Linked DNA regions of Homo sapiens. The main gene of each other region encodes a partner of the protein of the gene in region 3 in a complex. Each region holds a gene or a part of one and is shown on either strand. Other genes may lie near its edges. The genes, in order: KANSL3, KANSL1, KANSL2 and PHF20.

What was found.
Region 1: KANSL2 (region 3) and KANSL3 share a complex: the UniProt entries of both Homo sapiens proteins name them as parts of the NSL complex.
Region 2: KANSL2 (region 3) and KANSL1 share a complex: the UniProt entries of both Homo sapiens proteins name them as parts of the NSL complex.
Region 4: KANSL2 (region 3) and PHF20 share a complex: the UniProt entries of both Homo sapiens proteins name them as parts of the NSL complex.

The regions. Positions count from the first base shown.
Region 1 is NC_000002.12:96,635,312-96,642,769, reverse strand, and holds the start of KANSL3 (KAT8 regulatory NSL complex subunit 3), read left to right. Parts: upstream 1-4,457; 5' UTR 4,458-4,487; exon of another isoform or gene 4,488-4,510; intron 4,511-4,778; exon of another isoform or gene 4,779-4,929; intron 4,930-5,421; exon of another isoform or gene 5,422-5,584; 5' UTR 5,585-5,634; coding exon 5,635-5,849; intron 5,850-7,458. UniProt on the Homo sapiens protein: Non-catalytic component of the NSL histone acetyltransferase complex, a multiprotein complex that mediates histone H4 acetylation at 'Lys-5'- and 'Lys-8' (H4K5ac and H4K8ac) at transcription start sites and promotes transcription initiation.
Region 2 is NC_000017.11:46,183,408-46,190,429, reverse strand, and holds part of KANSL1 (KAT8 regulatory NSL complex subunit 1), read left to right. Parts: intron 1-7,022. UniProt on the Homo sapiens protein: Non-catalytic component of the NSL histone acetyltransferase complex, a multiprotein complex that mediates histone H4 acetylation at 'Lys-5'- and 'Lys-8' (H4K5ac and H4K8ac) at transcription start sites and promotes transcription initiation.
Region 3 is NC_000012.12:48,679,217-48,686,937, reverse strand, and holds the start of KANSL2 (KAT8 regulatory NSL complex subunit 2), read left to right. Parts: upstream 1-4,699; 5' UTR 4,700-4,751; intron 4,752-5,296; 5' UTR 5,297-5,305; coding exon 5,306-5,556; intron 5,557-7,104; coding exon 7,105-7,283; intron 7,284-7,721. UniProt on the Homo sapiens protein: Non-catalytic component of the NSL histone acetyltransferase complex, a multiprotein complex that mediates histone H4 acetylation at 'Lys-5'- and 'Lys-8' (H4K5ac and H4K8ac) at transcription start sites and promotes transcription initiation.
Region 4 is NC_000020.11:35,942,998-35,950,019, forward strand, and holds part of PHF20 (PHD finger protein 20), read left to right. Parts: intron 1-4,487; coding exon 4,488-4,630; 3' UTR 4,631-7,022. UniProt on the Homo sapiens protein: Methyllysine-binding protein, component of the MOF histone acetyltransferase protein complex.

The DNA.
Region 1 (7,458 bases), on a different chromosome or scaffold from region 3:
TCCAAGACTTTTCCCAGCGATCCTGGGGTGAGTGGAGCCCCACTTCCTGTCTGTTGCTAAGCAACAGACAGGCTGTCACAAAGGTGGGCGGTTCTTGGTTCTGGAGAGGAATTAATGGGAAAGAGAAGGGGGAGGAGGAACAGGGTATAGGTGACTGGGCCTGTAGAAACAAAACCACCTGGCTGCTTTCACCCCCTTTTCTTATTGCCCAGGCTGGAGTGCAATGGTGCGATCTCAGCTCACCGCAACCTCCACCTCCCTGGTTCAAGCGATTCTCCTGCCTCAGCCTCCCGAGTAGCTGAGATTACAGGCATGCGCCACCACGCCCGGCTAATTTTGTATTTTTAGTAGAGATGGGGTTTCTCCATGTTGGTCAGGCTGGTCTCGAACTCCCGACCTCAGGTGATCTGCCCACCTCGGCCTCCCAAAGTGTTGGGATTACAGGCGTGAGCCACCAAGTCTGGCCTTAAAAAATTTTTTTTTGCCCACCCCACACCTGCCCTCCTTGCCGTCCTTTTGATTTCAAGGTCAGACATAAGGTTGATGTTTTCTCCTTGTACAAGCAAGTTGTCTGGAGCCAATCATTGCCAAAGTCACACAATGTAGATGAGAAAATAAGAAAACAGTGAAGTGACCTGAGAAAAGGGATAGGAAAATCAAGGACTATTTCTGTGAGGTCTCAGGGAAAGTTCTTCCTAACGTGGAAACCTTTTTACTAAGAAAAACCTAAGTTTAGATACGAGACCCTCTTTGACAAAAGGAAATTAGCTTTTGAATTAATGAGCTCATATGGAAGGTCAAAGAAGACAATGCGGTTTTGAAGTGGCTGTCTTTATGGCTGTCTGAGCCTCTGTGCATTAAGATGGAGCTGGGGCACCTATTCTTATTGTCCACAGCAAGGCTTTTTAGGCTTTAGGGTTGAACATCGTATAAATTACATCTTATCCAATAGTTAGAATGAAAACTAATGAATATTTAAATGCTGGGATTGGTGGCTCATGCCTGTAATCCCAGCACTTTGGGAGGCCAAGGTGGACGGATCACTTGAGGCCAGAAGTTCGGGAACAGCCTGGCCAACATAGCAAAACCCCATCTCTACTAAAAATACAAAAATTAGCTGGGCGTGGTGGCACGTGCCAGCAATCCCAGCTACTTGGGAGGCTGAGGCAGGGGAATCGCTTGAACCTGGGAGGTGGAGGTCACAGTGAGCCAAGATTGCACCACTGCACTCCAACCTTGGCAACACAGCGAGACTCTGTCTCAAAAAAAAAAAAAAAAAGGCCGGGCGTGGTGGCTTACGCCTGTAGCCTGTAATCCCAGATCTTTGGGAGGTTAAGGCGGCCGGATCACGAGATCAGGAGATCAAGATCATCTTGGCCAACATGGTGAAACCCCGTCCCTACTAAAATACAAAAAATTAGCCGGGCATGGTATTGCGCGCCTGTAGTCCCAGCTACTCCGGAGCTGAGGCAGGGGAATCGCTTGAACCTGGGAGGCGGAGGTTGCAGTGAGCCGAGATCACGCCACTGCACACAAGCCTGGCCACAGAGCAAGACTGTCTCAAAAAAAAAAAAAAAAAAAAAAAAAACAATGTTTAAGAACAATCTATTAGTTAATGAAACAACTACTTAGCAGTAAGCGTACCACGCAGTCTAAGAGATGAATGGATTCAAAGACTGAAACGCTGGGTCAGTGATCAGGGTGCTGATTGCTTTCTAGTGCAGCAGATTAAAAAAAAAAGTGCTTCTTGGAAGTTTTTCTTGAAATCTAAACACAACACAGTGCTTTTCGCTTTGTGAATGGCTTTTCAAAGTAAGCGTGACACAAAAGACCCTGTAAGTGAAAAGCTGACAGATTTGACTGTATTAAATAAAAAATTCCTATGTAGAAATTATGCCTTAAAGCTAGAAGACAAATATCAAAGCAGGGAAAACATTTTCAATATACTTAATGTCCAACAGTTTATTTAATAAATGTTTATAGAGCAAGCTCTTAATAAGAAAAGGATGACTATCCCAAAGGAAAACAAAGGCAAAGCTCCTATCAGATAATTGCCCAAAATGACAAAAAAAAATTTTTTTTAAAAAACCCTCAGTCTTGTTAATAATCAAAGAAATACAATGAAATACAATTTATGACTTTGCCAAATTGGTTTCAAAAGCCAAAAAAGATGTAAAAAAAAAAAATCAAACTCACTGGGCACGGTGGCTCACGCCTGTAATCCCAGCACTTTGGGAGGCCAAGGCGGGCGGATCACGAGGTCAGGAGATCGAGACCATCCGGGCTAACACAGTGAAACCCCGTCTCTACTAAAAATACAAAAAATTATCCGAGCATGGTGGCACACGCCTGTGGTCTCAGCTACTCGGGAGGCTGAGGCAGGAGAATCGCTTGAACCAGGGAGGTGGAGGTTGCAGTGAGCCGAGATCACGCTACTGCACTCCAGCCTGGGCGACAGAGAGAGACTCTGTCTCAAAAAAACAAAAACAAAACAAAACAAAAAACTCATTAATAAGCAAATAAATGGGATAAGATACCATTTATCACCTCTTAAATTGGCAAAGAATGAAACAAAATGATAAACGTGGTGTGCTGAGGAAAGGAAGGGGCAGAGAAAAGATACAAATCTGTTTTTAGTGGGAATGGGAATATAAGTAGAGAAATAGCAGAACCCTGGCCCCAAACAAGCGCCCAGGAGACAAAGTTAAGGGTAGGGAGAGGTGGGGCAGGGGCTGCTCTATTTGTGATAATTTCTATGGCCTTAAGCTCCATATTTCTAAACAGCACTTTTAAATAGCATTCCTTGATTTTTTCAAATCTATGAGGCATTTTCCCAGTTTTATTGTTTTCCCCGGGGCTCTCCCTCCTGGTCTTCTCTTCTCCCCCAGCTGAGACTAGTGGTCCCCAGTCCTGCAGCATAGCTATTGTCCTGGGATACTCTTTGCCATCACCTTCAGAATTCCTCGTCTGCTTCTTGTGTTAGACCCTGCTTCCCCGATCCTATGCCTTCCGTCTTCTCAGTTTACCCTCTCATCTTTGTGGAACACAGCTTTGAGTGGCTTTCTGAATGTTTCGAGTGTTTGCATGTCTGTACCTATCTTTTTTTTTTTTTTGAGACAGAGTCTTGCTGTGTCGCCCAGGCTGGAGTGCAATGGCGCGATTTTGGCTCACCGCAACCTCTGCCTCCTGAGTTTGAGAGATTCTCCCACCTCAGCCTCCCGAGTAGCCGGGATTACAGGCATGCGCCACCACACCTGGCTAATTTTTGTATTTTTAGTAGAGACAGGATTTCGCTATGTTGGCCAGGCTGGTTTTGTACTCCTGAACTCGTGATCCACCCTCCTCAGCCTCCCAAAGTGCTGGGATTACAGGCGTGAGCCACCGCACCCGGCCATTTCTTTTTTTAAATAGAAACGAAGTCTCACTGTTTTGTGCAGGCTAGTCTTGAACTCTTGGGCTCAAGCAATCTTCCCACCTTGGCCTCCCAAAGTACTGGGATTATAGGCATGAGCCACAGATCCCGGGTGAGATTTATCATCTTGAACCATGTCTCTTGCTGTCTTGTCTCATGTCTCTTGATGTCATGTTGTCAGTCAGTCAACCAAATAACCAATTATTGATCAGTCAACATTTGAACAATTACCTATGTTCTGGGTGTATGTTCTCTGGAGGATACAAAGGTTAATGTCCCTGATTTTGAGGATCTACTCTCTCTACACAAAACACATAGGAAAGTTAACCACACAAAACAATCTAGGGTCAGTAACAAAATTCTTTTTTTTTTTTTTTGAGACGTAGTCTCACTCCGTCGTCCAGGCTGGAGTGCAGTGGTGCAACCATGGCTCATTGCAGCCTGGACCTCCCAGACTCAAGTGATCCTCCCACCTCAGCCTCCCGGGTAGCTGGGACTACAGGCATACACCACTATCACACACACCTAATTTCTAAAATTTTTTGTAGATACGGGGGTCTCATCATATTGGCCAGGCTCATCTCAAACTCCTGAGCTCAAGAGGTCCTCCCGCCTAGGCCTCCCAAAGCGCTGGGATTACAGGCGTGAGCCACATTAGGTAAATTCTTAATGAGTAAATTCAGGTGGCTGCCCTGGTGGAGGTGGACCGTTGGGTGCTCGACCGCCCAGAGGGCACAAAGGACCAACACGGTGGGGGTGGCGAGAACTGGGGCCGTAGAAGCCAGCCTAGTCCTCCGCCCTCGCTTTCCCTACTGAATATGCGCGAGGGGGAAACTCCAGCCTAGTTGTTGACTTTCTGCTTCGGACATGCTCGCGTGTTCTTGGCTCTCCTCTTCCGGACAGAGGCGCCGGAGCTTCATCCGTTCCGGGCTTTGCCGCTCACCGCCTCTCCCTTCCCAGGCCGTAACCCGCTTCCGCGTTTTACTCGGTGCCCGCAGCGCCGGGGCGTGGAGGCGTTAACGCGCACGCGCTTAGGGATCCGGCCGTGGCCGAGCGCGCGGCCGTAAGACCGCGGGTGAGAGCAGCGTTGGCTTCGAGGGGAGTGGCGGGCCGTGGGGATCGCGGCCGTGGTTGGGACGGCCGGGGGTCTCGGCGAGGGCTTCAGGGCTCCCGGGGCATGCGGGGGCCCGGGCTAGGGCCGGCTGCCGGTGCTGGTCGGGCGGGGCGGGTCGGGCCGGGGGCGGGCTGGCAGGGGCCGCGTCTGGGCCTCCGTGACGCGGACGCCGAGCCCTGCCCCAGGGAGCGGGAGGCGGGAGGCGGGGGCCAGGCGGCTCCTCCTCGTCGCGAACTCTGGATGACCTTGGCCAAATCGCTTCAGTTCCCCGAGCTGGCGACTTCGTCTGTAAAATGCGAGTCATAGCCCTGTCTCCTAGATGGGCCGTGTGGAGGCTCAGTGGCGGGAACGCCTGCGGGGCAGCCGGGGTCCTGGGCGGTTTGCTAGGGACGCCTCACTGGGGGTGAGGGTGAAAGGGCTTCCACGGGGATCATTTTGTCACAGGCTTTGTTGGGGGGGCAGTTTTCATTTTTATGTAAACAACTCTGGAATATTACGAAGTACTTAACAGAACTTTTGTTTCGCACAATACGAGAGGCTTGAAGAAGTGGAGCCCTAGCTGGGATTCGCTTTTTTGAGGCCGGCGTTGCCCTGCCCTTTAGGGGTGCCCACGCTCTAGCTGCGGCCCCGGCTCCCTTCGCATTGTCGTTAGAGGATGGTGTGAAGCAACAGAGATCCTTAGCTTTCAACGAATTCATATTTGTGATTTCCTGTTTGTCAAAACCCTTCCTGCCCACCTAGGAAGTGGTGCTGGCCAAGCAAGTTTACTGTCTGTCCACGCGAGGTCTTTCTGAACCTTGGGGTCGGTGAGCTCTCCCGTTAGGTAATTTCAGTTCGCTAGAGGTTGAGTATGGGACAACTCGTGGCACCATAGTTTTTTTTTTCTTTTTTTTTGGTGTTGGTGTGGGATTCCACGAACCGTCCCCACCAGAGGTCTGCCGTGAAATGGATACTCAATAGGAATGATAGTAGGTTACAAAAGTAAGCATGTTAGATGGTGTAGATTGGGAGAAATTTAGGATATTGGAATTGACCTAAACTGAAACTTTTCACTGCAGGTGACTAGCATGCAGATACCCATGCTCTGACTTTCTGCCCCTCCACTGACATGGCCCACCGGGGTGGGGAGAGGGACTTCCAGACTTCAGCTCGACGCATGGGCACCTCGCTGCTCTTCCAGCTTTCAGTGCATGAACGGGAGCTGGACCTGGTTTTTCTGGATCATAGCTATGCCAAGCCTTGGAGTGCCCACCCAGATGCCAGTAGTGCCCGCCCCACCCGCATGCTCTTTGTCACTCCCCGGCGGCAGCACGAAAGTACCATGTGAGTTGGGGCTTCTAAGGGCTGCTGGTAACCTCACTGGGCAGTGATCAGATGGGAATTTAGAGAGGATTTTCTCAGGATTGACTGGGGGAGATTGTATGAGGCATTTGGATGTTAAATTCAGGCATCTCTTAAGCAGCATAAGGATAGCAGGCTTGAATGTGGCTATCTCTGTGAGACAGCTAACAAGAGTTAGGAAAGCAAGACGTGCAAATGAAAAGCAGACAACCTATTCCACTTAGATAGTAGGACGTGTGGAAAGGGGAAAATCGTAGAGGGTTATTTAACTGGTGAAGAAAAAGACTGAAAAGTTGATTTTAAAAGATTACCCACAGGATACGACTCTTTTATCACATTAGTCCAGTGCTCTGGGTTGCTTGACAGTGGCAACAATAGCCTTTTTATAGTAATGCATTTTGCTTTTCTTGGTTTCACACACGAAGGTTAGGAGCCAATTCCCAAGACGTTGCTTTTTCTCTTCCCTTGTTACAGAGCTGCTATCCATAGGTTAATCTAAACCCTTCTTATGTCTAATGATATTTTCACCCAGCCTATGTTATAGGGTAAGGAAGTTTCATAAATTGACTACCTGATGAGTGATACAGTTACATTTGGTCTAAATAAACCTGTTTGCCAGTTCTTTTGCACTTTAAGGCATTCTAATTATGTTTCATGATGTGTTGATATATTCCGTTATGGTGATCAAATCATGTCCTTAATAATTTTGTAAACTTTTGGAGAAGAGTTTTGTCTGTTTGTTTTTAATCTGACCTAATGTTTAATCTTTCCTTAAGCACTGGTTTTAATTTTGTTGGGGGTTAGAGCCCTTGTAGAGGCTTCTTTAGAGTCACCCCTCCTGGAATTGAGACTTAATGACCTAATGAGTTAGAGATACCACAATGTGTGTGTGTGGTTTTTTTTTTTTTTGAGATGGAGTCTTGCTCTGTCGCCCAGGCTGGAGTGCAGTGGTGTGATCTTGGCTCACTGCAACCTCCACCTCCTGGGTTTGAGCGATTCTCCTGCCTCAGCCTCCTGAGTAGCTGGGACTACCGGCGTGTGCCACTGTGCCTGGCTAATTTTTGTATTTTTAGTAGAGACAGGGTTTCCACCCACCATGTTAGCCAGGCTGGTCTCGAACTCCTGACCTCAGGCAATCCACCCGCCTCGGCCTCCCAAAATGCTGGGATTACAGGCATGAGCCACCGCTCCTGACCCACTGTGTGTTTTAAACATGTGCAGAATAGTGTCTTTTATTTCATTTCCCAATGACTTTATAATTTTGTTGGCTTTTTTGGTGTACAGGAGATAAAATCTGTAACTTTAGGCAATAATTTAGCATAATCTTGATGCCTCTGGCCTAGGGCATAACTGAAAAGCTCCTTTAAATAGTAGTTGAAGTCTTTTCCTTTTTTGCTGCATATTAGCTTCTTGCTGACATTAAAACTCCTGTGTCCACATCTCATGACATTTTCTTAAAGTGAGATTCTGTGGACTTGGTTCTTTTGGTACTTAGAAAATTGTTTCCTTTTATAATCTCTGTCTCCAAATATAGACCCTGAAAGTGAGAATTTGGCATGCTGTAAGAACTCTTTTAGGCCAGTGTGGCCAG
Region 2 (7,022 bases), on a different chromosome or scaffold from region 3:
TTGACTTTGGTGCTTTACCAACGTGAGATGTTAAATTTTTGTCTGATTTTCTTTCTTCCTGCCTACACATGTTATTTCTCTGGTTAAACCTGCAGAGCACTCTTTGTTACGTGAGTGTTTCCTGTTGAGGAAAATTCTGGAAGTTAGAAAATGAGTAGGCCTTAGTTCACTTGTGAACTCATATCAAGGTGAGAAGAAAGTGAAGTAACTATACTAAACTTTTTTCTTCACTGTCACTAAGGCTACTCTTCCATCTCTAGTAATGCTACATTGTAACCAGTGTCTCTGCGTCTTCTGTAGAGGATTGAGTTGACCACAGGTTTTAATTGCATTTTAAAGTGAATAAGAAGTTTTAGGTTTGTTCTGTTCGTTATGACCTGATTTGTGTACTCTGTAAACATAGGGGTGTTGTGGTTGTTTGAGAAGGTATTTTAGTATTGAGAGGTTCTGATTAGGCCCCTTTGCGAGTAAAGCTTAGTTACCTTGTTATATCAGGCAAGCAATTTTTTTTTTTTTTTTTTTTGAGGCAGGGTCTCGTTCTGTCGCCCATGCTGGAGTGCAGTGGTGCTATCTCAGCTCATTGCAGTCTCCGCCTCCCAGGTTCAAGCGATTCTCGTGCCTCAGCCGCCTGGGTAGCAGGGACTACAGGCATGTGCCATTGGGACTACAGGCGTGTGCCACCATGCCCAGCTAAGTTTTGTATTTTTAGTAGAGACGGGGGTTTCACCATGTTGGCCAGGCTGGTCTCGAACTCCTGACCTCAAGTGATCCACCTGCCTCGGCCTCCCAGAAGTGCCGGAATTACAGGCATGAACCACTACGCTTAGCCTAGACAAGCAATTTTTAAAATGTGCTATAAAACACCAAACTAATCCACACTGGATTTTCTAAACATAGTAAACGCCATGTTTAAAGAGTAATGCGTATTCCTTTTATGTTTTTTCAGCTTGTGGGGAGATGGGTAGGGGCTATTTTTTTCTTCTTGGTGAGTCCATTAAGACACAGAAATAAGCGACTTTCTTGCTAGATAGATGTATATAGTTTTATTGTCCCTCTCCACCCCCCAACAAAGGACCTCTCCGTTCCATTCCTTGAGTTTAGAGGGGAGGGACTAGGGTAAACTGAATAAGTGGTTGTCTGTTGATTGCCCCAGAGTAAATCTTATTGAGTGGTTTAGAGATTTTGTTTCTTTTTCATTTTAGAGACGAGGTCTCGGGGTCTCGCTGTGATTCCCAGGTTGGCGTGCACAGATGTAATCATTGTGCGCTACAGTTTAGAGTGCCTGAACTCCGGGGCTCAAGTGATCTTCCTGCCTTAGCCTCCTGAGTAGGTTGAGCAACGGGAGCATATAACCTTGCTTGTCTTTTTTTTTTTTTTTTTTTTTTTTTTTTTTTTTTTGAGACAATCTTTGCTCTGTTGCCCAGGCTGGAGTGCAGTGGCGCGATCTTGGCTCACTGCAACCTCCACCCCTAGGGTTCTAGCGATTCTCCTACCTCAGCCTCCTGCGTAGCTGGCATTACAGGTGCCCACCACCACGCCTGGCTAATTTTTTTCTATTTTTAGTATAGATGGGGTTTTGCCATGTTGGCCAGGCTGGTGTTGAACTCCGGACCTCAGGTGATCCACCCACCTCAGCCTCCCAAAGTGCTAGGATTATAAGCGTGAGCCACCGGGCCTGGCCCCTTGCTTGTCTTATTTAGAGTTTTAAAGCAGCTTTCGTTGTACTCTTTCTTCATTTTAAATGTTCCTGCCTTGAGTGATTTGATTAGTCTATGTCTTGGGAAGCGTATTTTACCTTAGTGCCTCTTTACTTACTTACCTTAAGAAAGGAGTACAGGGCAGGTTCTTAAGTAAAATGGCCCCAGACACCTGGCTTGCCTACTGTGTCAGTGCAAAGAACACTTGGATCATGTCTTTTTCCTAAAATTGGACTTCATAACTGTTTCTTGGAAGTCTGTTTTAAGACTTTTTTAGTTCTCATGTTGCTTCTGAAGATGTATGTTTAAATTACAGTTTCTATGCTGATAAGTTGCGTATATACCTCTGGGCATACTAAAAGTTGTGCAGAACAATAGTTTATATGACAAGATAAGTTTCCCTCATCAGTACTTCCCATTCCCTGAAATGTGAGATCAAAACTCAGTTGAACCACACTATGGCTGTAGAAGACAGTATGAATTAGAAAAGACAAATATCCACTGTACTAGAGTTCACCAGCGTTTGAAGGCTATCAGAAGATATAGGAGGTAAGTGATATCCTTGGGTGTCACTTGCAGATTGAGGGGAGGATTGTGGGTCATAGGAGATGACTAGTATGGCAGGGGGTAACTATTATTATTTGTTTCTTTTTTAAGCCATGTGCCTTTTAGGATGTAGAACAAAATACATAGGAGAAAATAAGCCAAAAGGTGTGATTTACCAAAATACTTGGACTCCAAAAAGAGCTGCAATATATATTTTTTTTTATTAAGCATTTTCTTGTCTTTGGTAGAATAAAGGTAAAGCTAAAATAGAGTGCGGAAACTGACTTGACCAAAGTAGAAAACACAGCTCATGTTTATGAATCAAAAACAAATGAGTTTGGGCAGTCTGAAAGAAAAAAATCAAACATTTTATATGAAGATTTTAAACCTTTATGCAAAGAGTCCCTTTAAGGTGGAAGAGACCTTTTAAATAGAGTAGACCTTCCCCATTTAGTAGCACAATGCGGCAAAATAGTTGTTTAATAAATGTTACTTTCTGCAAGCCTTGCTTTTCCAAGATTTTAAGCTGCTTCCACAGTGTTAACATTTGAAAGCCCTCTACCAGGAAATTATTTAGCTGTGTATTTTATTGTTGCTGACTGTGAACTTACCCTTTTTTTTCCTGGCTGTAATTTTTTTAGAATTAAAGTTTCTTTCCAAGATTTTGAGGGTCAGGAAATGCAAAGTGGAGGTAGATTGAGTGCAGTTTTATCTAAATGTTATTTTAAAAACTCTGGTTCTTGTAACCTGAACCAGGAATCCAAAATGAGATCTTACTCTGAATTTTAATTACAGCAGATTCTGCTCTTATTTGGAAAAAGTTGCTTGAGTGACATCAAACTTAATGGAGTCCCTCACCTTTTAATTCCTTTTTAAAAAGGGGAGAGCTTAAGGTTAGACTTGGTTAAATTCAGTTGGAAGGTAAGTATTAGGGAATAAAAAAGAGGAATAACAATTTTGTTGTTAGGATGTTAAACCAAAAATTGCTAAGAACTCATATCTAGACTTTCCTCTTGCTGCTTGTTATTTGGCCTTTGTGACTGTTTGTTAGCACCTCCACCAGAGGGTGTGAAGGGAAAGAGGCTCAAAGCTAAGTACTGTAGCTAGTTTCTGGTTTCTAGTATAGGAGAGACACTTCATAGAAATACCAGCCTGGGCTGGGTGTGGTGGCTCATGCCTGTAATCCCAGCACCTTGGGAGGCCGAGGCGGATCACCTGAGGTCAGGAGTTTGAGACCAGCCTGGCTTAACATGGTGAAACCCTGTCTCTACTAAAAAAAAAAACAGCAAAAATTAGCTGGACATGGTGGCGCATGCCTGTAGTCCCAGCTACTCAAGAGGCTGAGGCAGGAGAATTGCTTGAACCTGGAGGCGGAGGTTGTAGTGAGCCGAGATCGCACCACTGCACTCCAGCCTGGGCGACAGAGAGAGACTTCGTCTCAAAAAAAAGAAAAAAGAAATACCAGTCTGATAAGTTGAACTGTCAGGAAAGTTTCATTAAACTCTCCATATGTTACCATGGAGAACTGAAGCTCTTTGAAGACCTTAAGCATGTCTCCAAAAAATTGGACTGTATTTTTTTGCACTTAGTGATTTACTCCTTACCCCTTGCCTCCCAAGAGAATGAAAAATGGATATTAGTATTGACTTAACATTTTATTGGCATTGGAAAAATGTACTTTTAAAAGTCATTAATTGACTTTTCTCTAAAGGTATAAGGTAGGTTTCAGTGGGAACTCAGGAATTTGGCCATGGACCCTCCCAGAATAACCTGTTTCCTTTAGAATTCTTTTTTTTTTTTTTTGAGACACAGTCTCGCTCTGTGCCCCAGGCTGGAGGTGCAGTGGCGGGATCTCAGCTCACTGCAAGCTCTGCCTCCTGGGTTCATGCCATTCTCCTGCCTCAGCCTCCCGAGTAGCTGGAACTACAGGTGCCCGCCATCATGCTCAGCTAATTTTTTTTTTTTTTTGCATTTTAGTAGAGACGGGGTTTCACTGTGTTAGCCAGGATGGTCTCGATCTCCTGACCTTGTGATCCACCCGTCTCGGCCTCCCAAAGTGCTGGTATTACAGGCATGAGCCACCGCGCCCGGCCTCCTTTAGAATTCTTAAAATCTTCCAGAAGTCGCTGATTTTAGGATTGTTCAGGAGCACTTACACCAACCATTAGGGCTTGTTGGAAAGAGATATGATAAAAAGTATGATTTTTTTTTCCTCTGTCTTTTGTCAGCTAAAGAGTGGTAGGAAATTTGAATTCAGTGCTAGCATAGAAGTAGGATTAACACCATTAATAGTTTGATATATAGACATCCTTCAGAAAAAAAAGTTTTCTTGAGATGGTATCTTGCTATGTTGTCTAGGCTGGTCTTGAATTCCTGGGCTCAAGCAGTCCTCCCACCTTGACTTCTAGAGTAGCTGGTATTACAGGCATGAGCCATGGGGCCTAGCCTATCCGTGTGTGTGTGTGTGTGTGTGTGTGTGTGTGTGTGTGTGTGTATATATGTGTGTGTATATATATGTGTATATATATATGTTTAATGGGATCATACTTGTTATATGGCTTGATCTTTTTAATTAGGGTTTTTTTTTTGTATTCCAGTTCTTCAGTGAAAGCATTGTGTATACATCTTTGAGTACCTATGAGAATATTTCTGTTGAATAGATTTCTAGAAGTGCAGTTGCTGGGTAAAAGTTTGAGCAATTACATTTGTGATTTTGATGGCTATTACCTTTATAATGCTGTGTAACCACATTTAATAATAGCTTAAAAAGTGTAGTTAAAAAGTTTCCTAGTCTGGGTACAGGTGCTTGGTCAAGTAAATAACTGGAACTTGTAGTGGGTGAAGCCTATCCTAGGTTCAGTTGATGCCTCTTCTTGTTAGGTGGTTGATCACTTCAGACATCCCCATTAACGTCCTAATGGATCTTCATCTGATGGGTTTAGCATAGAATGCTCAGGTTGCTTAACGTGTGTTGGTCTGCTGTCTGCCAGGCATTGTGCTGCTTGTAGGGGACAGAGATAAAACAAGCTATAACCCTCCTTTTTTAAGAAGTACATAGTTGGCCAGGCGTGGCGGCTCATGCCTGTAATCTCAGCACTTTGGGAGGCCGAGGCTGGCGAATCACGAGGTCAGGCCAGGCCAACATGGTGGAACCCTGTCTCTACTAAAAAAGACAAAAAATTAGCTAGATGTGGTGGCGGGTGCCTGTAATCCCAGCTACTCAGGAGGCTGAGGCAGGAGAAACGCTTGAACTCAGGAGGTGGAGGTTGCAGTGAGCCAATATTGTGCCGCTGCACTCCAGCCCGGGTGACAATGAGAGGCTCTGTTTCAAAAAAAAAAAAAAAAAAAAGTACATACTCTGGGGAAGAAAGAGACAAGACAAAATTGTGAGTTTATATTGTACCATGAGCAATAGCCAGGGTGTCATGGGGGTGCAGGTAAGAGCCTAGAGGGAGGGACCCCACCTCAACCTGGGAGTAATGGGGAATACTTGAAAGAGCATGTAACCTTGAGCTGAACCGTGAAAGAGTAGCATGAGTAAAGGTGCAGGGGCATAGAAGAGCCAGGAAACATATGTTTCAGGTGGCTGCAGTGAGGACAGGCTGGAGATGAGGTCTAATGTAAAAAGGGGACAGATAATGGTGTGTGGGGAATTTGGACTCATCCTTACTCTAGAGTCAGTGAAAGATTTTAAATGGTTAGATTTAGGTTTACCCCCTCCTTTCCTTTTTTCTTCCCTTTCTAATAATCATTTTGGTAGTGGACGCTAGATTAGAGGCTTGCTGAGACAGGAAGAAGGAAGAATAGTTGGGAGATTATTACTGCCTGAATTACTATAGTACATAATGAGGTTCTGCACTAGGGCATTGGCACCAAGGATGGAATGAATGTGCCTGTCATTCTGTGTGTTGCCAACCCTCACCCTCTGTGCACCACCTCACCTTTCAAAATTCAGTCAGTATGTCATCTTTTCTAGAAGCCTTCCTTGACCCCTTCAGGTGAAATACAGTACTTTATCAAGCTAGGCTACCTTCACACCTAATTTATATTTTACTATCTTGTATCTGGCATTTAGTAGATGTTTAAATTAAATATTTATGGTAAAAAGTAAGTTGGTGATTTGAGGTCATGATTAACTCAAATAGACAATGTTGAGGAGCAGGAGGAAGTTTTGGATTTGGTGTTGGGGCAGGGAATGGGTTTTGAATATGGGATGCTTGAAGTAGTTGTATAGGCAATGCTGAATTCTACTCATTTCTTTCTTTTTGTTTTTTTGGAGACAGTCTCATTCTGTCGCCTACGCTGGAGTGCAGTGGTGCCATCTCAGCTCACTGCAGCCGCTGCCTCCCAGATTCAGGTGATTCTTGTACCTCAGCCTTCTGAATAGCTGGGATTACAGGCAAAGACGGGGTTTCGCTGTGTTGGCCAGGCTGGTCTCAAACTCCTGACCTCAAGTGATCTTCCTGCCTTGGCCTCCCAAAGTGCTGGAATTACAGGCGTGAGCCACCTCTCCCGGCCCTACTCCTTCCCTTCCTTCCCTCCCTCCTTCCTTCTTTCCCTCCTTTTCTTCTCTCACCTCCTCTCCCCTCTCCCCTGTCTCCTCTCTCCTCTCTCCTCTCTCCTCCCCTCTCCTCTTTTCCTTCTTTTGAGACAGAATCTTGCTCTGTAACCCAGGCTGGAGTGCAGTGGCGTGATAACAGCTCACTGCGACCTCCACCCGCCAGGCTCAAGTGACCCTCCCACTATGCCCAGCTAATTATTATTTTTTTAGAGACTGGG
Region 3 (7,721 bases):
TGGTGATAAGCACTTAAAAAAAATTTTTTTTTTTGAGACGAAGTCTCACTGTCTCCCAGGCCAGAGTGCAGTGGTGAGATAACAGCTCACTGCATCCTTGACCTCCCTAGGCTCAAGTGATCCTCCCATCTCCTGAGTAACTGGGACTACAGGTGTGCACCACCACGCCTGGCTAATTTTTTTAGAGATGGGGTCACCCTATGTTGCCCAGTCTGGTCTTGAACTCCTGGGCTTAAGCGATCTGCCCGTCTGGGCCTCCTTCACTCTTGTTGGGATTATAGGTGTGAGCCACCACACCTGGCCATAATAAGCACTTTGGAGACTAAAACAGGGAATAGGGGATAGGGATGTGTGTGTGCATGTGTGTGTGTGAGCACGTGTGTGTGTTTAGGTAACTAGGGCTGTGGGAATTGGAAAAAAGGTGGCTAGGGAAGGCTTCATGACCAGAAGCTTCATGACCTTTAGGGAAGACCTGAAGGAGGTGACAGCAAGTCATGGGAATAACTAGGATAAGATCATTCCAGGAAACGTGAGACATCAAAGGTTCTGAGGTGAGAATATGCTGGTATGTTTGAGAAATAGCAAGGAAACCAGTGTAGCTGGTATAGGAATGAGTGGGGAGGGGGTATTGGAGAGAGGAGAGTAGCAGGATATGAGGTTAGAGAGGCAATAGAAAGCCAGATACAACAGGACCTTGTATAAAGACAGTGAATGGAACAGACGCTATTGGAAAGTTTTGAGAAGGGAAATGACATCCAACTTAGGTTTTAAAATGTTCATTTGGGCTGCTGTGTTGAAAATAGATCATAGGAGTCAAGGGCAAGGAGCTCTCACAATTTAGGTAAGAGATGAGGGTGGCTTGGACAGGTTGGAAGTACCCAAGGTAATGAGAAGTGATGTATCTTTTTTTTTTTTCTTTGAGATGGAGTTTTGCTCTTGTTGCCCAGGCTGGAATGGAATGGCGTGATCTCAGCTCACTGCAACCTCCGCCTCTCAGGTTCAAGCGATTCTCCTGCCTCAGCCTCCCAAGTAGCTGGGATTACAGGCATGTGCCACCACACCCGGCTAATTTTGTATTTTTAGTAGACACAGGGTTTCACCATGTTGGCCAGGCTGATCTTGAGCTCCTGACCTCAGGTGATCCACCCGCCTCAGCCTCCCAAAGTGCTGGGATTACAGGTGTGAACCACCTTGCTCAGCCGAGAAGTGATACAGCTTGAAGATGGAGCTAATAGGATTTGCTATGAGGTGGAAGAGAAGGAAGTGAAGGATAACTCCCAGTGTTTGTCCTGACCAACTGGAAGGTTGGGGTTGTCATATACTCAGGTAGAGATGACTACGGGAGTAGCGGGAGGTTGGCTTTAACATTAAATTTGAAATGCCAATTAGACATCCAAGTGGAGATGCCTACTGGACAGATGACTAGAGAGTCAAGTTCAAAGGAGGGATCCAGGCTGGATATATGCATTTGGGAGATAACAGCTTATGAATGGGATGAAACAGAGTGAGATAACTAAGGAAGTAGTAGTAGAAAATAGAAATGTTCAGTGTTTAGAATTGGGGAAAAGAGAAACGAGACAGAGAGTGGGTGACTGATGTAGATGGGAAACTAGGAAGAGTATGGAGATCTAGAAAGAGTATAGAGTTCTAAGGAGGAGGAGTGGCCAAGTGTGTTAGACATTGCAAAGTGGTCTAATAAGATGATGCCTGAAAACTTCATTAGAATTAGCAAGGTGAAGGTCTTTGATAACTTTTTTTTTTTTTTTTTGGAGACAGTCTTGCTCTGTCACCCAGGCTGGAGTACAGTGGCACAATCTTGGCTCACTGCACCCTCTGCCTCCTGGGTTCAAATGATTCTCCTGCTCAGCCTCCCAAGTAGCTGGGATTAAGGCACATGCCACCACACCTGGCTAGTTTTTGTACTTTTAGTAGAGATGGGGTTTTACCATGTTGGCCAAGCTGGTCTTGAACTCCTCGCCTCAGGTGATCCACCCGCCTCGGCCTCTCAAAGTGCTGTGGTTATAGGCGTGAGCCACTGCGCCCAGCCGTTTTCATCTTTTTTCTCACTTTTCTCTAGGATTAGCCCCCCAAACTCTAGTTTCCTAATCCCTATTTACAAATAGCTTCTGGTCTACTTTAACCTCTTCAATAGCTACAAAGTGTTCAGTGAATTAAAAATAACCATCTACCTCCAGCCTGGGCAACAGAGCAAGACTCCATCTCAAAAAAAAAAAAAAAGCCATCTACTTTGTTAAACAGAACAAAGAATTTGCTGACATCTTGAGCTCTTAATATCTGCTCCCTCCTTTCACTTAGAAGTGGTTCTAGGCCGGGCATGGTGGCTCACGCCTGTAATCCCAGCACTTTGGGAGCCTGAGGTGGGCAGATCACGAGGTCAGGAGTTGGAGACCAGCCTGGTCAATATGGTGAAACCCTGTCTCTATTAAGAATATAAAAAAATTAGCCGAGCATGGTGGCGCACACCTGTTGTCCCAGTTACTTGGGGGGTAGGCTGAGGAAGAAGAATCCCTTGAACCCAGGAGGCGGAGGTTGCAGTGAGCCGAGATCGCGCGCCACTGCACTCCAGCCAGCCGGGGCGACAGAGCAAGACTCCCGCTAAAAAAAAAAAAAAAAAAAAGAAGTGGTTCTAAATAGTAATGTTTTGTCTGTCTTGGACTTACAAGAAGGATTCTTTTTTCAACTAAGACCTTCAGTAAATTCATTGAAAGAAAGTCTTTTGTTTCTTCCCCATCTATTCCTGTGTCTCTTCATATTGTTCACTACAGTAGTTTTAATGTTGCTTTTTGATATTACTACATTTGGTTGCAGATTCGGATTCCCAAATTTTCTGTGACATGACTGCCTCTGGCTGTTTTTTAATTATAGGGTGTTTATAACAAAACATCTTTTTTCGTACTCCTGAGGGTTGGTCTGTTTGCTTATGTATATAAATCATTGTTATTAATATTATGTTTGTATTGCATCCATAATCCAAAGCTATCCTAGAATGTTCACTCCAAGAGAGCAGGGTTATCTTCCTTGTTCTCTCCTGGCACTTAGGTGCTCAATAAATATTCGTTGAATGAATGAATTTCAGGCCTTCTTCTAGGGCTGCTCTAGTCTCTGGAAACAGCACAACCCCCAAGGTTTTTTTTTTTTTTTAATAATTTATCGGTCCTATAGTGTATTTATTTATTTATTTATTTATTTATTTATTTATTTATTTGAGATGAGGTGTCTCCATATTGCCCAGGCTGGGATCGAACTCCTGAGCTCAGGTGATCTTCCCACCTCAGCTTTTCAAAGTGCTGGGATTACAGTGGTGAACCATGACGCCCAGCCTTAGTGTTTTTCTTGAGGGCTGTGGAATCTTTATGTTCACTTCCACTGGGACTCATGCTCACTTGCTCGTTAGGCATGGATAAAACATCTTTCTTAAACTGACAGTGAGGAGATAAGAGATGCTGGAAAGCAAAAAATGTCTAGAAGGGTTATGGGAAGAAAGCTAGGAATCATTTCTACAAGTGGTGGAGATGACAGAAAGATGCTTTTAAACTAAAAATCCTTAAAGGATGGTATGATTGGTATTGTGTCTGTCATTTTTATGATACCTGCATTATTTAGCATGGAATTTTAAAGACAGGGCACACAGTTATGAGAAGCAGCCCTAAACTAGAACAAATATTTCCTTATTCTCAGTCCAATGCTCTTTACTATATAAGAGGCAATAAGGGATAAAGAATGCGGGCTGGGTTCAAATTCGTCTTCCTTTCCCATTTAATAGCTATGGTCCCATTCTGTTCCTCAGTCCTCTTATCTGTAAAATGGACATAATACTAACCTGTACCTCTTAGGGTTGCTTTGAAAAATTCAATGACTTTATACATGTAATTCCCAGAATCAGTAAACACCCAAAAAATGTTTCTCAGTGTTCTCTATACCAAATGTTCAGTACATGTATTGAACTGTTCACAAAAGAAAGCTAAAGACTTTTTATGTGTAAACAGTGATCCTCCAGCCTCTGTCTGATTTATTTTTTATTTATATATTTTTTTGAGACGGAGTTTCGCTCTTGTTGCCCAGGCTGGAGTGCAATGGCGCGATATCGGCTCACCGCAATCTCCGCCTCCCAGGTTCAAGAGATTCTCCTGTCTCAGCCTCCCGAGTAGCTGGAATTACAGGCGTGCACCACCACGCCCGGCTAATTTTGTATTTTTAGTAGAGACGGCGTTTCTCCATGTTGCTCAGGCTGGACTCGAGCTCCCGACCTCAGGTGATCTGCCAGCCTCAGCCTCCCAAAGTGTTGGGATTACAGGCGTGAGCCACCGCGCCCGGCCTGTCTGTCTGATTTTATACTAGCTGTGTACAGTGGTGAGGGAACAGCAGCCTAGGACCACAGACTGAGGGTCCAAAAGTAGCCGGAAAACGAGCCACGCTGCAAGGTGGAAAAATATTAGCTGGCAACCCGCCCCGCAGCCCGCTCTCCGCCCCCTTCCCCGGCTCACTCTCCTCCGGGCGGAGTTGCTGACAGACAGTCTGTCTTAGCCACCCCAACCTCGCATTTTCTCAGCGCTCCGCCCTCCCAGACACGATAGGTAGTTGGTCTCGGCCAATGGCGACATCCTGTCATACGAGCGGTAGCCAATGAGTAGCCAGGAGTCCGGAAAGGGGCGAGGCCGATCTGAGAGCCGCTGGCGCCACTAGAGAAGGGCGAGCGGCGCGGCAGAGTGCGGCGCAGCGCAGCTCCTGAGGTAAGATGGCGGTGCTCTTTCCTCTAAGCTCTTGCGGTTGGGCTGCTATTTCGCTCTTTTTGTCAGCTCAGAGCTGCTACTCCGCCTCAAAGCAGTGTCAGAGTCAGTCTCCTTCCTGCAGGCTTCCAGGAGCCAGGATCTCCGGTGACTGGAGCCGTAGGACAAAATGGCGCTCGCATAGGCTTCCGAGGCCAGGCCCAGTCGTGCGCTCTGAGGCAGGCCGGGACAAAGGCGGCGTGCGGGGAGGCGGCGTGGCCGCCGCGTGGGGCTGGTGTTGTCGCTTCCCTTCGTGCTGCAGCTGTGCGAGTCCTGAAGATACATTCAGCGTGGTGTGGTTCGGGGTGGGGCCGGGCATGGAGGGACACGCTAAAGGGAGGCAAAGCCACAGATGCCTGTGGAGACTTGGGGAGGGCGGCGGGGACTTACGGAGCGTACCTTACGGGGACGACTTCTGCATGTCCTTTGGAAACTGTCCGCGCGATCTGTGTGGAGCAGGAATTTTCGGGAAGGGTAAGGGCTTTTTGGTCTTTCGTTTGACCCCGCAGGTTTTGGTTATGAACAGGATTCGGATTCACGTCTTGCCAACCAATCGGGGGAGGATCACTCCAGTGCCCAGGTCTCAGGAACCTCTGTCTTGTGCATTCACTCATCGTCCATGCTCTCACCCTCGTCTGGAGGGGCAGGAGTTTTGCATTAAGCATATCCTTGAAGACAAGAATGCACCCTTCAAGCAGTGTAGTTATATATCGACGAAGAATGGAAAAAGATGTCCCAATGCTGCCCCAAAGCCAGAGAAGAAAGATGGGTATATATGTATAGATATATATGTCGTTTTTCTTAAAGCGAGGGGGTATGTGATATGATGCGGGCTTCAGCATAGCTGCCGCGTTTGAGATTTTGTCCTTGTAAATTTGGGGTTATGGTTGTATCCTTGGAAAACTGAAAAAACGGTGAAGACTGGAAAGACCCTTGAGTTGGATTACTTAGTTCACCTCTTTGGTTCTTTTCCCTTATCTGTAAAATAAAGGCATATTCTAAATTAGTCTTTTTTTTTTTTTTTTTTTTTTTAAGAGAGATGGGGTCTTGCTATTTTGACCAGGCCGGTCTCAAACTCCTGGCCTCAAGGTATCCTCCCATCTCGGCCTCCCAGAGTGCTGGGATTACAGGCGTGAGCGACCGCGCCCGGCCCTAAAGTTAATTTTTTGGCGGGGGGGCGGCGCACAGATTCTTGCTTTATTCCCCAGGCTGGAGTGCAGTGGAGATCTCGGCTCACTGCAACCTCCTCCTTCCAGGTTCAAGCGATTCTCCTGCCTCCTAAGTAGTTGGGACTTAAGGCGTGCGCCACTATGCCCGGCTAATTTTTGTACTTTTTAGTAGAGACGGGGTTTCACCATGTTGGCCAGGCTTGTTTTGAACTGCTGACCTCAGGTGATCCATCCGCCTCGGCCTCCCAGAGTGTTGGGATTACAGGAGTGAGCCACCGCACCTGGCCCCTAAAATTCTTCTTAATGGAGGGGTGTGTGGCTCTATTTGGCTGTCCATGAATTTTGTTAAATAACATGCAAAGTTATATATGTGTGTATTCTTCTGTAAGAGGCTTCATAGTTTTCATCATGTATGCAAAGGTATCCATGCAAAAACATAACCTGACTAGATAATTTTTTACGTATCTTATAGTTTTAAAATTGTGTCCCTGGCTGGTCGCAGTGGCTCATGCCTGTAATCCCAGCACTTTGGGAGGCCACGGGAGGAGGATCACTTGAGGCCAGGAGTTGGAGACCAACCCAGGCAATACAGTGAGACCCCGTCTCTACAGAAGATTAAAAAACTCGCTGGGCATAGTGGCGTGGACATGTAGTCCCCACTACTTGGGAGGCTGAGGTGGGAGGATCACTTGAGCCTGGGAGTTCCAGACCAGACTTGGCAACATAGACTTCGTTTCTACAAAAAACTAAAAAAAATTTGCTGGGCACAGTGGTGCATGCCTATAGTTCTAGCTACTTTGAGGCTGAGGCAGGAGGATCGCTTGAACCAAGCAGTTTAAGGCTACAGTGAACTATGATTGCACCACTGCACTTTAGCCTGGGCAACAGAGCAAGACCCAATCCCTTGCCTCAGCCTCCCAAAGTGCTGGGATTACAAGGGTGAACCACTTCATCCGTCCTGTTATTTCCCTTTAATAAAGTCAAATGAGTTGACCTTGGGCCAGTTAAATTCCTCTGACTTGCATTTTTAGAAATGAATGTAATAGTCATTTTAATTCCCTAAAAATGATTTAAAGATTAGGGACTGTGAACATTATTGAACGCTTTCAAGAAGGAACTTATAAAATATTAATGTTTTGTCTCTTCAGGGTGTCCTTCTGTGCTGAACATGTCCGTAGGAATGCCCTGGCACTTCATGCTCAAATGAAGAAGACCAACCCAGGGCCTGTGGGTGAAACACTCCTGTGCCAGCTGAGCTCATATGCTAAGACAGAGCTGGGGTCTCAGACTCCAGAAAGTAGTCGCAGTGAAGCCAGCCGAATACTAGGTAAGGACCTTCTCTCCTGGAATGAAAAAGGAGGAAGAAAGTTAAGGGGGAACTATTTTGGGTTAGCACAATGCCTTGATCTATTTGGCAATATTGTTAATTCATCAGGAATTTGGTGAGAATGCTGGGATTGCTTTGTTGTTTACCAGTTCTTTTGAATTTGAAGTTGTGTTTGCCTAGGTTTACTTTCCTGAGTTGGTGACCATTTCTTTCATTGCTTTTTTAATGCTCAGCAGCTTTGTTAGGTAATTTCAGGAAACAGTAATTTTAAGTTGATTTTTCTGTTTGAGAGGGCATGGTTTACTCATTTATGTTGTAAGTAATCTTACTTGGGTTGTATTTTCTTAAAGCGTTTTTATTTGCCAGTACCTTTGTACTAAGTGTTTTTTTTTTTGTTTTGTTTTTAAAATTTCAAGGTTTGGGTTGATAAAAGTAATC
Region 4 (7,022 bases), on a different chromosome or scaffold from region 3:
TATTTTTAGTAGAGACAGGGTTTCACTGTGTTAGCCAGGATGGTCTCGATCTCCTGACCTCATGATCCGCCCACCTTGGCCTCCCAAAGTGCTGGGATTATAGACGTGAGCCACCGTACCCAGCCCTAAACTAAGCTTTCATAACCAAGTTTTAAAATAGGAATTTGGATGTAACATTCCTTTTTTAAAAAGCCGGCCTGCTTAGCTGGGTGTGGTGGTGCACACGTATAATCCTAGCTACTTGGGAGGCTGAAGCAGCAGAATCTAGGAGGCGGAGGTTGCAGTGAGCTGAGATCATATCACTGCACTCCAGACTGGGCAACAGAGTGAGACTCAGTCTGAAAATAAAAAATTTAAAAAAATTTAAAAGCTGACCTGGCGTGGTGGCTCACACTTGTAATCCCAGTGCTTTGGGAGGCCAAGGAGTTCAAGGTTACAGTGAGCTATGATCGTGTCACTGTACTCCAGCCTGGGTGACAGAGCAAGACCCCATTTCTTTAAAAAAAAAAAAAAAAAAGCCTAGTAAGCTATTATATGAAATATATATATATATATGCCATTGTTTTACAATTGGCCATTATTTAATTATTTATGTAGTTATATGAATAGTACTTTATTTATTTATTTATTTATTTATTTTTGAGACGGAGTCTCGGTCTGTTGCCCAGGCTGGAGTGCAGTGGCACGATCTCGGCTCACCACAACCTCCACCTCCTGGCTTCAAGCAATTCTCCTGCTTCAGCCTCCCGAGTAGCTGGGATTATAGGTGCACACCGCCATGCCTGGCTAATTTTTGTATTTTTAATAGAGACGGGGTTTCACTATGTTGGCCAGGCTGGTCTCGATCTCCTGACCTCATGATCTGCCTGCCTCGGGCTCCCAAAGTGCTGGGATTACAGGTGTGAGCCACTGCACCCAGCCTGAACAGTACTTTAAAACTAAAAGACAAAGGATATTTAATGACCATGAAAAGTAAAAAAGTCTTTTGGCATTAGAGAGATTATTTTCTTAAATAAAAAATGTTGCCTTGGTGAGCAGTGGTCTCTATACACATGATCTTAGTGTATTTGAACAGAATTTTTTCCTCTGTAACCTTCTGTCTTGCTAGCAACCACTATGCTAGTTGGAAGCTGTTCTGCATCTTTAAAAGAGACACTTGGGATGGTGCAGCACATGGTATGGAGAGGGTGGCCTGCTGGATGCTGGGGTCCAGAGGAGATGCTGTTGACTTCCCACAGTCCTGGCTTTGTTCTTCAGCCTAACAGACCTAGACAGACAGCTTCCATCTCAGGAACTCCACACACTCCTGTTAACCAAGCTCAGGCACTACTGAGTGGCTTAGACTCTTCCAGTCTGAGCGTTGGTGCGCTTTCACACTGTGCATGCCTCCTGGGCCACCGTAGTATCGGGATGTCTTTGGTGAGCCTGGAACTAGATCCAAGGTAGTTAGGGTGACCTTAAGAGGGGCCTCTCAGCAACTGTAGGATCATCTTGCAAAAGATTGACTGACTCTCTTTGCTGTTGGAGTGACCCATCCAGTCCTGACTGCCTTTTGTCCATTTATTTATTTTTATTTTATTTTATTTTTTTAAGACGGAGTCTTGCTCTTTCTCGCCCAGGCTGGAGTACAGTGGCATGATCTCGGCTTACTGAAGCCTCTGCCTCCCAGGTTTAAGCGACTCTTCCTTCCTCAGCCTCCCAAGTAGCAGGCAGATGCCTGCCACCACACCTGGCTGATTTTGTATTTTTAATAGAGATGGGGTTTCACCATGTTGGCCAGGCTTGTCTTGAATTTCTGACCTCAGGTGATCCACCTCCCTTGACCTCCCAAGGTGTTGGGATTACAGGCGTGCACGTCCGGCCTCTCCATTTATTCTTCTGCCTGTTTGCTGAACAGTCCCCTGTCTCCTTCTAGTTTTTTTTAAAGACTTACTGGTGTTTTGAAACTGGTCACTATCCAGTTTTCTTGCTCAGCAGGCCACTAGTTCCTCTCACATGACTGATCTTTTACTAATGGTTTTCAAGCTTAAGTCTGAGGAGGTGGTCTTATTTTTCTTATTTCCAAGTCCTTGTACTTGCTGGAATTAGGAAGAGAGAGGGTTCCTCCTTCTTGGAACCCCCAAATACCAACAAGAAATATGATGGAGGAGGATAAACTACATAGGGCCCAGAGCAATGGGTAGGGCGCTTTGCTGGACCACACATTCCTTCTCTCGCTGTGTTTGTTGCAGGCTTGCCACATTTCAGACACAGGTGAGTGTTAGGGATATAGTGGCAAGCAAGGCAGACTCAGCCTTTGCCCTCGTGGAACTTGATCTAGTGGGAGAGACATATATTAAACAAATCATCCCATTACCTGTAATGACAAACCATAGTAAATGCTCAAAGGAGAACATGTGATATCATAGCACCTGTAACACAAGGACCAGATTCAGGGTATAGGGTTGGGGAAGGCTTCCCTAAAGAATAGCTCACAAGAAACAGAGGATTTAGAAAGGTGGAGAGGAAGGTAGGGCTGCATCTGAGGACAGGAGAGGATTGCGCAGTAGGTTGCAGGCTGCTTGATGAAGAGGTACTGGGTGGGCCTTTCTTTTGCTGCACTCCAGGGTCCAGAAGGTGCTCAGTACAGGTTGGTGCATGGACTAGAAAGGCTACAGGCAGGCTGGGATAGCACAGGGGCTACCTGCAGGGGGTGGTTCTTGTCAAAGGTGCAGGGTTCCCAGATGGTCTCTCCCCAAATGCCAGAGCTTTAGGGGGTAGCTTAGGGAAGAACAAACATCTTTCTGTAGAGAAATACTTGTTCTCACAAGCAAGACAGCTTTCTAGATATTGAACCAATGATGATAATGTTAATTAATACCTGAAATCTTACATTAAATATTTAAAGGGGTCCTGCATGGTGGTTCATGCCTGTAATCCTAGCACTTTCAAAGTGGCCAAGGCAGGTGGATCACCTGAGGTCAGGAGTTCGAGGCCAGCCTGGCCAACATGATGAAACCCCATCTCTACTAAAAATAACAAAAATTAGCCAGGCGTGGTGGTGTGTGCCTGTAATACCATCTCCTCAGGAGGCTGAGGCAGGAGAATCGCCTGTACCCGGGAGGCGGAGGTTGCAGTGAGTCGAGATCATTGCCATTGTACTCCAGCCCAGGCAACAAGAGCGAAACTCTGTCTCAAAAGAAAAAAAAAGGCCAGGCCCAGTGGCTCATGCCTGTAATCCTAGCAGTTTGGGAGGCCGAGGTGGGTGGATCACCTGAGGTCAGGAGTTTGAGACCAAAATACAAAAATTCGCCGGGCGTGGTGGCACATGCCTGTAATCCCAGCTACTTTGGAGGCTGAGGCAGGAGAATCGCTTGAACCTAGGAGGCAGAGATTACAGTGAGCTGAGATGGCGCCACTGCACTCCAGCCTGGGCGACACAGTGAGACTCCATCTCAAAAAAATAAATAAATAAGTAAATAAATAAAGGGAGAAAATAATAACAGAGTATTCTGTGCCACTGATGATTGCGTATCAATCAGGAATTAATATGAAGCAAATCAGAGTTTATGATATACAAATAGACCTTTTCAAGACCCTATAGATTTTCATTTTTCTTGACAGGATGCTAAAACACCAGGCTCTCTGATTTTCAACATGGGAAAGCTTTTTATTTTTTATTTTATTTTATTTTATTTTATTTTATTTATTTTATTTTATTTTATTTTATTATTTTATTTATTTTATTTTTTGAGATGGAGTCTCGCTTTGTCGCCAGGCTGGAGTGCAGTGGCACGATCTCGGCTCACTGCGACCTCCGCCTCCCGGGTTCAAGCAATTCTCCTGCCTCAGCTTCCTGAGTAGCTGGGACTACAGACGGGCACCACCATGCCTGGCTAATTTTTGTATTTTTAGTGGAGATGGGGTTTCACCATGTTGGCCAGGATGGTCTTGATCTCTTGACCTTGTGATCTGCCCGCCTCGACCTCCCAAAGTGCTGGGATTATAGGCATGTGCCACCGCGCCCGGCTGGGAAAGCTTTTTAAAGAGTGAGTGGTAACACTCAGAAAGGTGCTTCCTTCCAAGACTTCTAGACTCTGGTAACAGTAGCCTCTGGCAATGTGTGGCTGTTTAACCAAAACTGAATAAAATTTAAAATTCAGTTCCTCAGTTGCATTAGCCATGTTTCCAGCGCTCAATAGCTGCATAAGGCTAGTGGCTACTGTATTGGATGACACAGACTTGGACCATTGATCATCGCAGAAAGTTCTTTTGGACTGTGCTGCTCTAAAGCATTTGTGTTTTGTCCTGGGAGTACCACTTTGTAGAGCAGGTGTTGACACAGTGCTGGCTGAAATGGCCCTTCCTCCCTTGCCCCATGGAGGCTGAAATGGCCCTTCCTCCCTTGCCCCATGTCTGATGGAATAAGGTGCTGAAATGCTTGCTGATGTTCTTGCAAATCAAGTGTTGGGAGTTCACTAGGTCTCATCTCTCTCTTCTGCCGACAGTGTTGGAGAGCTGGCTGGACTACACTGGGGAACTGGAGCCCCCTGAGCCGCTGGCCAGGCTTCCGCAGCTCAAGCATTGTATCAAGCAGCTGCTGATGGACCTGGGCAAGGTGCAGCAGATCGCCCTCTGCTGCTCAACATGAAACTGGGCACCCAAAACTCATGGGGGCACAATCCTGGGGCACCTGCAGGAGGAGCTTCGCATATTTAAATAAATAAACCTAGCATGCTGAATGCACGTGACACCGACTGACTTCAGGGATCTGGGCCAGGAGTGTGGTGGACATTGGACAAAGAGGCCATTTTGGCTGCGGGAGGACACTCTGATCTCGAAGCCTGCCATAAAGGTAGCAAATAGACTCTTGGGATTCCCCTCTTCTGTGCACATCGTTGAATGAAGAGAGTCTTTTTGCACAAACTTCACTTGAAATTGTGCCACTGATGATAAACGGAATGAGAGCCAAAAAAGTTTAGTTGGAGACAGTTGTAAATTCAATTTGGAGTTTATTTAATTGACTTTTCTATCACGTTGGGGCACATGCCAACTCCCTGGTTTCTTCCTGGCATGGTGTTTGGGCAGCAGGCATCATTTTCCTTTTCTAGCTTCATAGGAATATTGTGAGCTCACCATGCTGTGGAGGTTGGGAAAGAGCAGAGTCTTGGCTGCCCTGCTTTCTCCTTAGGACTCTTCACTTTTCTCACCACATCTCTTGCATGACTTCATGGTACTGGGGACAAGTTTGTATGCCTTCACCCCAGAGCTGGCTGGGTTATGGCTTTTGTAGCAGAGCCCATACAGCCTATGGAAGAACTAGAATCTCACTCACAGTAATAAGAATCTAGGAGGAATTCCAAACCGAAGCAGGCAGGGTCTGGAACCCAAAGGACAGCATTTTCTACCCACTTCTTAATATTGACAGCTTCCCCGTTCTATTTAATGTCCAAAAATGTTTCCCAAAATTTCAAACTCTTTCACTGTAAAGATTTGTTACAAAGAATGTGGTTTGGGGAATTACCTTATTTTATATTGTTGTAAACAAACTTCAAATTCTACATGTGCGACTTTTCTCCTTCCTGAAGGGTGTTTAGTAGTCAGCGTTTTCAGAATTGTTTTGTTACTATACTTTAACATTTTACATTTCCTGTTTGTATTATTTTGTGAGAGCAAGGTGATCATGCTGCTTAAGGTCCAGGTACAACCTATTTGTACCTTTTGAGACAATATTTGTGTTACTTTTGCAGGTTACGGTTCCACATGTAATTGCTATATTTTGTTTTGTTTTTCCTTACTAGGCAAAGTTAAAATGTTCCATGCTTTGAGGAGTGACCCATTTCACTACTTTGTTTTCTTATCACTAAAGGCAAAAATCAAAGCACAGTTGTCCATTAACACTTATAAGTTAATTATGGGTTTATGAGTCTGTAATGTTATATGCTGCAAACATTTACTATGTAAACGTGAAGTAGCCAATAATATCTCAATAGTAGTAACAGTATCTTTAGCGACCTTTGGAATAGTTAAGCACAGGTCATTGTGGACATGAATTCAGGCCTCTGTACTAAAATCTATTTCAGGGAATGTTCTGTCTAGTGATTTGCTCACCATTTGATATATAATGAATTATAGGACAAGTATAAGCTGATCTGCTATAGCTGTCCATCAGAGAGAATACACGTGGCTATAACATCTATAACAAAACGACGATTCCTCTACAAGAGGCTGTTTCTCACTGCTAACGTTGGTGTTTCTGGCGTGGGAAGAAATGCACAGGCGTGCATGGCATGCACGTTCAGACAGCTGCATTGTAAGAGTTCTGTCATGCAGTCTGAAAAGGGAAGAAACAGGATGGCTTTCTGTAGCCACACCTGTGAGGCGTGATGATTGTTGTATTATTAGATTACTGATTTTTCTTTTCTGAAAATACATTTGAGTTTTAATCACATCTGTGGAAGCTGTAACTTTTAAGGTAGTCAATTTCATGTCTTGTTCAACGATGTAAGCAGAAACTGAATTGCCCTAATTTTGCCAACTGGCCATTATTGGGATTATTGTTTAAATTTTTGGTAAAGGAAGTAATCTCCTTTCATTCATTGTGACTTTTGTTCTTAGGGAAGCAGAGAAGACTCCCCAAGTTCTTATAACCTCATTGTGCTTCCCTAATTTAAAGCCATGTTGAGGGGCTCCATTCCCAATTCCTGGGTCAAGGTGAATTAACCCTATGTTGGAGCACTGGAAACCGTTATTTGCAAACATTGCTGTTACCATTTAGAAATATGTGCACTATCAGCTGGGTGCAGTGGCTCACGTCTGTAATCCCAGCACTTTGGGAGGCCGAGGCAGGTGGATCACCTGAGGTCAGGAGTTCGAGACCAGCCTGGCCAACAGGGTGAAACCCCGTCTCTACTAAAAGTACAAAAATTAGCTGGGCGTGGTGGCGGACGCCTGTAATCTCAGCTACTTGGGAGGCTGAAGCAGGAGAGGTGCTGGAACCTGGGAGGCGGAGGTTGAAGTGAGCCGAGATTGCGCTATTGCAC